Linked DNA regions of Homo sapiens: region 1 is linked to region 2. The links come from fine-mapping of genetic effects on gene expression. A gene starts in region 2. The other region holds a variant in brackets. All regions are shown on one strand. Distances are between the middles of the regions. Region 1 has its middle 21 kb from the start of CUX1. Region 2 holds the start of CUX1 (cut like homeobox 1).

Region 1 (4,380 bases), 20 kb before region 2:
GAGATTGAGACCATCCTGGCTAACACAGCGAAACCCCGTCTCTACTAAAAATACAAAAAATTAGCCGGGCGTGGTGGCGGGTGCCTGTAGTCCCAGCTACTCAGGAGACTGAGGCAGGAGAATGGTGTGAACCCGGGAGGTGGAGCTTGCAGTGAGCCGAGATTGCGCCACTGCACTCCAGCCTGGGCGACAGAGCAAGACTCCATCTAAAAAAAGAAAAAAAGAAAAGCAGAAGGGTCTGGGCTGTCGTTCCCAATCTTTCCCTCTTTCTGATGCACAGTGAGGGTCCAGTCACGTGGTGTCCACTTCTATCATCTCTCCACCATCCATGACCTAGAAGCTGCCCAAGGCAGAAACTGGGCTTTACGGACCTGATTTCTGTATCATCATTTTTTGTTTTTTTTTGAGACGGAGTCTCACTCTGTCACCCAGGCTGGAATGCAATGGCGTGATCTCAGCTCACTGCAACCTCCACCTCCCAAGTTCAAGCAATTCTCCTGCCTCAGCCTCCCGAGTAGCTGGGACTACAGGCACATGCCACCACACCCAGCTAATTTTTGTATTTTTAGTAGACATGGGGTTTCACCATGTTGGCCAGGATGGTCTCGATCTCTTGACCCTGTGATCCTTCTGCCTCGGCCTCCCAAAGTGCTGGGATTACATTGCACCCAGCCCTGCATCACCTTCTTAAGCCCCTTTTTTCCGGCCCCACCTAATACCACGCATGTCAGGGTTGCCTGGCCTAGCACAGCACAGCCTAGCCTGGAGGAGAAGTCCATACTTACCTATGCCTGGTGGGGGATGCCGCCTTCACCAAGGTGTGAGCCCATGGAGGCTGGCCTCCTTTAAGAGTCTGGCCAGAGGACTTGAGGTGGCCTAAACACACCATGAGCAGACTAATGATACCAAAGTGGAACCAGAATGATAAGTCCTAGCTCCCCAAAATTTGAGCATCTATTCTGTGCCAAACACTATAGCAGACATTTTATTATTTATATGTTTATTTATTTTGAGACAGAGTTTTGCTCTTGTCACCCAGGTTGGAGTGCAATGGCGTGATCTCGGCTCACTGCAACCTCTACCTCCCAGTTCAAGCAATACCTCAACCTCCTACGTAGCTGGGATTACGGGTGCCCGCCACCATGCCCAGCTAATTTTTGTATTTTTAGTAGAGATGGGGTTTCATCATGTTGCCCAGGTTGCTCTTGAACTCCTGACCTCAGGTGATCCACCAGCCTTGGCCTCCCAAAGTGCTGGGATTACAGGCATTAGTCACCCCATCTGGCCTATGCTACTTACTTCCAATACCCTACCATTGTCCTTTTAGTGATGACCATACCCAGGCGATCTCGATGCCCAAGATTTAAGGTGCAGGAAATCCCACTGGAGTTCAGAGCTGCTGCTTTTTTTTTTTCCTCCAAGAGAAATTGTTGAAGTCAAACTTGACCAAGTTCTTTCTGCAAACTGGATGCCTTCACATGCCTGTCTCCAGATCCATGCTTCAAGGCTAAGTGTTATTAATAAAAGTAATGCAGATTGGGAGGCCGAGGCAGGCGGATTATGAGATCAGGAGTTCGAGACCACCCTGGCCAACATGGTGAAACCCCTCTCTACTAAAAATAGAAAAATTGGCCGGGCGTGGTGGCGGGCATCTGTAATCCCAGCTACTTGGGAGGCTGAGGCAGGAGAATCTCTTGAACCCAGGAGGCGGAGGTTGCAGTGAGCTGAGATTGTGCCACTGCACTCCAGCCTGGTGACAGAGCGAGACTCCATCTCAAAAAAAAAAAAAAAAAAAAAAGCCATCCTGGCTAACACGGTGAAACCCCGTCTCTACCAAAAATACACAAAAATTAGCCAGGTGTGTGGCAGACACTTGTAGTCCCAGCTGCTCAGGAGGCCGAGGCAGGAGAATGGCGTGAACCCGAGAGGTGGAGCTCGCAGTGAGCCGAGAT[C/T]GCGCCACTGCACTCCAGCCTGGGTGACAGAGCGAGACTCTGTCTCAAAGAAAAAAAAAAAAAGTAATGGAGAAGCTGAAGGTTACCCAACTCGTTTCCTGGGCTTGCTTCTCTCTGTCACAGTTCCCTGACAATGATGAAAGCCTGTTCTTTCCAGCCCTCGGCCTCTGTTGGTCCTCACTTTGCAAATGTCTTTCCCAATCTTCACCCACACCAGAAACTCCACGTCTCCCCATGAGAGTTCCCAGGACACCCCGTGAGCCGTTTGCAAGAGAGTGTATCACCTTTAACTCGCCCCTGTCTGTTGCAGGAAACAGGGGTCAGACTGTTCTACGCTTTGAGCACATGGCCTTTGAGGCTTCTCACTTGATCCTCAGAGCTAAATGCTCTCAGATCAGAACAGCAAAGGACTTCGGCCTCAGACCCAGCAAGAGATGTTGTCATTGCATACAATCAGCCAGGAATGCCTTCATTCATTCTACACATCTTTATTGACACAGCCTGGCCCTGAAGTCAAAAGAATGAGAAAGGAGGAAGACAGGCTTGGTGCCTGCCTCCCTGTGTTTAGAGGTTAGCAGAAAAAGAACTAAATCAGGGATGCATTAGAATTATGGTATTACGCCACCATGGAATACTATGCAGCCATAAAAAAGAATGAGTTTGGCCGGGCACAGTGGCTCACCCCTGTAATCCCAGCACTCTGGGAGGCTGAGGCAGGTGGATCACCTGAGGTCAGGAGTTTGACACCAGCCTGACCAACATGCTAAAACCTCGCCTCCACTAAAAATACAAAATTAGCCAGGCATAGTGGTGCATGCATGTAATTAATCCCAGCTACTTGGGAGGCTGAGGCAGGAGAATCACTTGAACCTCGGAGGCAGAGGTTGCAGTGAGCCGAGATGGCACCACTGCACTCCAGCCTGGGCAACAAGAGAGAAACTCCATCTCAAAAAAAAAATAAAGAAAGAAAGAATGAGTTAATGTCCTTTGCAGGGACATGGATGAAGCTGGAAGCCGTCATTCTCAGCAAACTAACACGGGAACAGAAAACCAAACACCGCATGTTCTCCCTCATAAGTGGGAGTTGAACAATGAGAACACATGGACACAGGGAGGGGAACATCACACACCGGGGCCTGTTGGGGGGTGGGGGGGCAAGGAGAGAGAGAACATTAGGACAGATGTCTAATGCATGCGGGGCTTAAAACCTAGATGACAGGTCGATAGGTGCAGCAAACCACCATGGCACATGTATACCTATATAGCAAACCTGCACTTTCTGCACATGTATCCCAGAACTTAAAATTTTTTAAAAAAATTATGGTATTATGCATACTAGGCTGGGTGTGGTGGTTCATGCCTGTAATCCTAGCACTTTGAGAGGCCGAGGGGGGTGGATCGCCTGAGCTCAGGAGTTCAAGACCACCCTGGGCAACATGATGAAATCACGTCTCAACTAAAATGCAAAAAATCAGCCAGGCGTGGTGGCGCACCTGTAGTCCAGCTACTCAGGAGGCTGAGGCAAGAGAATTGCTTGAGCCCGGGAGGTGGAGGTAGCAGTGAGCTGAGATCACGCCACTGCACTGCACTCCAGCCTGGGCGATGAAGCGAGACGCTGTCTCAAAAAAAAAAAAAAAAAAGAAAGAAAGAAAAGTGTGGTATTATGCATACTAACAACAGGGAAAAGTGAACCAGCTCCCAACTGAATCCTACTTTGCTAAGTTGTGTACATGTTTTCTTTATTCATTTCCATTCACTTATGTACAAGTTAAATATATATTTTTTAATTCCTGCTGTATCCGTCAGGGGACTAGCAGGAAACAGAATCAAACAGGGACGATTTAAGAGAAGTTAAGAAGGGACTAGGAGGCTGGCTGTGGTGGCTTACGCCTGTAATCCCAACACTTTGGGAGGATTGCTTGAGTCCAGGAGTTTGAGGCCAGCTTGGGCAATATAGCAAGACCCCATCACTATAAAGATTGTTTTTGGTTGGCCACGGTGGCTCACGCCTGTAATCCCAGCACTTTGGGAGGCCGAGGCAGGCAGATCACTTGAGGTCAGGAGTTCGAGACCAGCCTGGCCAGCATGGTGAAACCCCATCTGTACTAAAAATATAAAAAACTAGATTGGCATGGTGGTGCTTGCCTGTAGTCCCAGCTACTCGGGAGGCTGAGGCAGAAGGATTGCTTGAACCCGGCAGACAGAGGTTGCAGTGAGCCAAGATCGAGCCATTGCACTCCAGGCTGGACAACAGAGCAAGACTCTGTCTCAAAAAAAAAAAAAAAGGTTTTTTTTTTTGTTTTTTTTTTAATAGCTGGGCATGCACCTGTAGTCCCAGCTACTCAGGAGGCTGAGGCAAGAGGATTGCTTGAGGCCAGGAGTTTGAGACCAGCCTGGGCAACATAGAGAGACCCTGTCTCTATAAAAA
Region 2 (4,380 bases):
CTTGGGCTGTTCCGCTGAAGCGGCGCGGGGGGACACAGAACTGGGCTCCCAGACTTTTCCTGTCGTGGCCTAAACTGGAACGGCTTGGGCGAATGGGGGCTGCCGGGACCCCCAGCGCTACCGCCGTTGGGGTGCGTTCGGGTGCGACGCTGGCACCGCCGCTGTCCGGGTGTGGGGCATCCACGCGCGCGGCCCCCTGAGAGGGTCAGGGCTGTTTCCCCCTCAACTCCACTCCTCCAAACATGCCACGCTGTTCCTGGTCGTGTCGGTGTCCCGGTCCTCGCTGGGCGCAGAGGGATCAGAGTGTTGCCGTCCACCGTCGGGGCGCCTCCCACGCACGCTGCTGCGGGGGGCCTGGGCCACGCAGGGGTCGGGTGTGGGGGGTCCCGGGCAGGTGGTAGCGGCGTCTCCGCGCTCTGTACACTAACCACTACAGGGGCGCTCCGACGTTCCCCCCAACCGGAGTCTTGAAGGCGCTGCGCTCGGCCACCGCGGGCGATCGCGATCCCAGCGGGAGACCCCCCCCACCCCCGCAGCCCTCCCCAGGTGCGCGGTGCCGGGGGACCCCGGGCGCTGCCCTCCAGCGCCCCCTCGGGGCCGGGTCTGTGGCCGGCGCGACCGCGGACTTTGGGGGGGGTTGTCCCGAGGGGCGGGGGTCGCCGGTCGGCCCGCGGAGGGGAGGGGGAGGGCGGCGGTGGGGGGGTTGGGGGAGCAGGGGCCGGGGCCGCGCGCGCGAGGCCGGGCCGCGGCCGCCGCGCCCTGGGGCTGCGACTCCGGCTCCGGCTCGGGCTCGCCATGGCTGCGGCGGTGCCGTGAGGAGGAGTCCGCGTCCTCGGTGGCGGCGGCGGCGGCCGGCTCCAGGCCGGGTTTTGGCGCCGCCCGCCTGCTGCCTCCTGGCGGCTCCTGAACTCCAGCCCCCTCTCTATCAGCCGCTCACTCCGTCTCAATATGTCTCAAGATGGCGGCCAATGTGGGATCGATGTTTCAATATTGGAAGCGCTTTGATTTACAGCAGCTGCAGGTCAGGCTCCTCCGCGCTCGGCCTCGCGCCCGGGGGTGGGGGCTGCGGGCGGTCGCGGCCTCCGCCGGGGGCCCCGGGCTGGCCCAGCCGCCGGGGGGCCCGCGGCGGCGGGGAGGAGGGGGGTGCCGGGCACCGCGGGGCCGAGTCGGGGCCGAGTCCCTCCCGCTCCCCGGCCCCCATTGATCACTCGCTTGATCGGAAATTGATCCTCTTTGTTCAATTCATCGATCAGCCCAAGATGGCGCCGGGAGCCGCCGCCGCCACCACTGCCCCCGGTGTCTGCCCCCACCCCGGGCGCCCCCCCGGGCCCCGCGCCGCCGCCGCCGCCAGCGCCGCCGCCGCCGTTGCCGCCGCGGGACCGGGGAGGGGGCGGCCCCGGCGGCCCGCGGGGTGCGCGCGCGAGCGGGGAGCGGGGAGCGGGCGGCGGGGGGCGGGCGGCGGCGGGCGCCGGGAGGGGGCCGCGGCCCGGCGGTGGCGCCCGCCCGCCCGCTCGCCCCGCGCCCCCGGCCCGCCGTATTCCCGGGGAAAGTTTGTGGGGAGTTGCTGCGGGGGGTGAAGCGCCTGCCTCTCCAGGAGGAGCCGCCGCCACTGCCGCCGGCGCGGCGGAGCTGGGGCTGGTGGCGCTGTGGTGCCGCCGGCTCGGGGGAGGGTCAGAGCGGCCACCGGCGGCGGCGGCGGCGGCGCGGCCCGGCTCCGGCCAGGCGGGCGGGTGGCCGGGCAGGCGCCCGCGCTCGCTACCCCCGGCCGGCCCCGGCCGCCGCCCCCGGCTGTCACCGGCCCGGGCCGCGCCGCCGCTCCGGCACCCCGCGTGTGGCTCCCGGCGCGGACCCCCGGGTTTGTTTACGTCCCGGGGAGCGCCCCGGGGCCACCCGCGCACCTCGCGGCCGCCGCGCTCTTTTGTGTGCCTGTGTCGGTGACGCGGACCTGTTCCTCCGTGGCGGACCCCCGCGGGGGCTCTTTGGGGAAACTTGGCGAGGGGCGGCGGGGGTGCCCCGCGCGCAGTGTCGCTGGGTCCCGGTGTCCCGGACCGCCGGGTGCGGGCGCGGGAGGAGGAGGCTGCAACTTTCCCCTAGGCAGGCCCCAAGCTGTTCCCCCGGGTGCCCGGGCAGTGTACGCTGCCTCCCCGCCGCCGGTCCGAGCCGCGATCGCCGCGCGCCTGGGGGCTCCGGCGGCCCCCGGTGACCTGCGGCGCCGGGTCCCTTCCTTGCGTCCCCTCGGGGCTTCTGCCCTCTCTGCAGGGCCCGCCATGGAGCGCGCGGCGGGTGCGCTCGGAGATGCCTTCTCGGGCCGGGTTCTCGAAAGCAGAGCCCCGGGGGCCCGTTGGGACCGTGGCATGCCGGGCGGTGGTCCGCGCGCGGAGTCCCCGGCGCCGCGGGGGGACCGTGCCGGGGCTCCCCGGCCCGCGCCCGAGTCGCCGCCGTGCCCAAGGGGCGAGTGCCTGCCTGCCACCCCCCGCCCGGAGGAGCGGCGCACCCTTAGGGTCCGCCCCGCACGTGCCAGCTCGGCGCCCGCGGCGCCGGGACAGCCCCGGGACTCTGCCAGGTGGATGTTGTGCGTAGCCGGAGCCAGGTTGAAGGTGAGCGGCGTGTGGGCCAGAAGTCCCGAGGTTGCAGGCGCGGAGGGAACCGGGGATGTCGGGGGGTGCCCGGGTCCCGCGGCTTAGAATGCTCTAGGGCGGCCTGGTGCTCTGGGAGGGGATAGGAGGGTTCCTCAGGGCCCCTGGGGAACTGCAGCTACTCCCAACTGCTAAGGTGTGCGTGAAGATAAACTTGGCTGAACTTTCCTAACCTGGAGGACTGGTGACAGTGACCTACCGCAATACCTTTGGGAGCAAAGCTCGAGATGCAGGCTTGTATCAAACGAAGCGGGTTGGATTAAAACATATTTAAATGGAATCTGACAACTTTAATTGTATATGCTTGTTTTCTGCTCTTGCCTACTAAGAACGATAAAGCCGAGTCATAGTCGTTATGAAATTTCCTGAAATTTCTCGCTTAACTAGGAAGAAGACTATGCGAAATATGTATTTCCGATAAGATTAAAACTTAAAGGAGTTTAAGTATTTATTGACTAAAATAGATTACTCCAAAGTGTCTATTGTGTAAATTAGATTCCTGGATGTAATGAACACAGCCGAATGGCATTTTTGATAAATTGGTCTACCCTGTTTTAGTAAAAATAGCTCCCTTTTACCATAATTTAATTCCTGTGCTTACTGTAAAACCCGTTGTGGAGTTTTAAGGACAAACATTATTATTATTTTTCTCTCTTGTCTTCCTAAATGTGACATCCTAGCTTAATATCAATGAAGTGTCTTTTTTAAAGCATCCTGGCAAAATTGCCTGGAAAATGGATTTGGTTTCTAGAGTTACTAGATTTTAAGAACTCTAAACCTTCCTGTCCCCCATATTAGCTACTTCTTCAGGGGATCAGGGCTCCAGGGTTCCATCGAAAGTTTCCATGTCAGTTTACTTGCACTTTATGTGGATATTAAGAAGAAATCAAAACCAAACCCCAAAACAAAGTCCCTTATTTGAACTTCATTCCTCTTTACTCCTTTGCTTTTGGTGGTTGCTAACGATTTGGCCTTAGATGATTTCCTATGGGTTTGCAAACTTTAGTCGAATACGGAATGTCAAAGTTCAAGTCTCAGGCCAATCTGGTTCTTTCTCTGGGCGGTGAGGAGGCCTTTGGAGTTGGTGTCTGGTTAATTCCCACCGATAGTCAGTGAGTCAATAGAACGAGTTTGGGAGAGAATTCATTAGTTCCAGATTTTTCTCATTTTTCCAGACCTCTTTATACTGAGATTGGGTTGCCACCTGGGGGTAAAGAGGCTGATCGGTCTTTGCAGAGAGAAATCCAGGTTGGAGACGTCAGCGGGTCCAGGTGAGGTTGGGCCGTTCCGCAGTTCTGCAACCCTGGCTCACTGGGTTCTTGTCCCTCGGCTTCCTGGGTCTTGAAGCTGCTGCCTTGGCACAGGAGTGTGTGCTCAGGAAGAGAATTTCTGAAGATTGTGTTTTATTCCGTTTCCTTTTTAGTCCCAAAGGCTTGTGGTATGGAAGTTTCAGTGCTTTGGTATTGCTAAGACTAGTTGGACAAGTTTTTTATCCTATCTCAGACTTGTAAAAACCAGGTTTTCTTTTCTTTTTAAATAAGAAAAGCACTGTTGTATAAATTTGTCTTTTAAATACATATTTGAAAGGAGGACACTTTCTAAGACAAAGCTCATGGCACTCTGTATGTTAGTGGAGCTTTGAACTCTTTGGGACGGGGCCCGCCAATGACTGCCTTCCCTTTGGGACATTATTCCCACATGGTGACCAGCCTTCCCCTTTAAGCAGCTTCTGCAAAAGTAAACT

What was found. PIP is the estimated chance that this variant, and not a neighbour inherited with it, causes the effect.
Region 1: its variant is fine-mapped to the expression of CUX1 in whole blood (TOPMed, PIP above 0.99).

What each region holds. Positions count from the first base shown.
Region 1 is chr7:101,794,892-101,799,271 of GRCh38, forward strand. No RefSeq gene overlaps it. Among named protein-coding and RNA genes, the nearest start is that of CUX1, 21 kb to the right of the region's middle. The variant C/T (reference allele first, on the strand shown) is at 1,953.
Region 2 is chr7:101,815,073-101,819,452 of GRCh38, forward strand. CUX1 (cut like homeobox 1) reads left to right here and starts at 2,554. Exons shown (of 24, transcript NM_181552.4): 1 at 2,554-2,597. The coding sequence starts at 2,568. RefSeq lists silencers at 319-708, 749-978, 1,564-1,723, 1,834-2,153, 2,224-2,303 and 2 more and an enhancer at 810-1,738.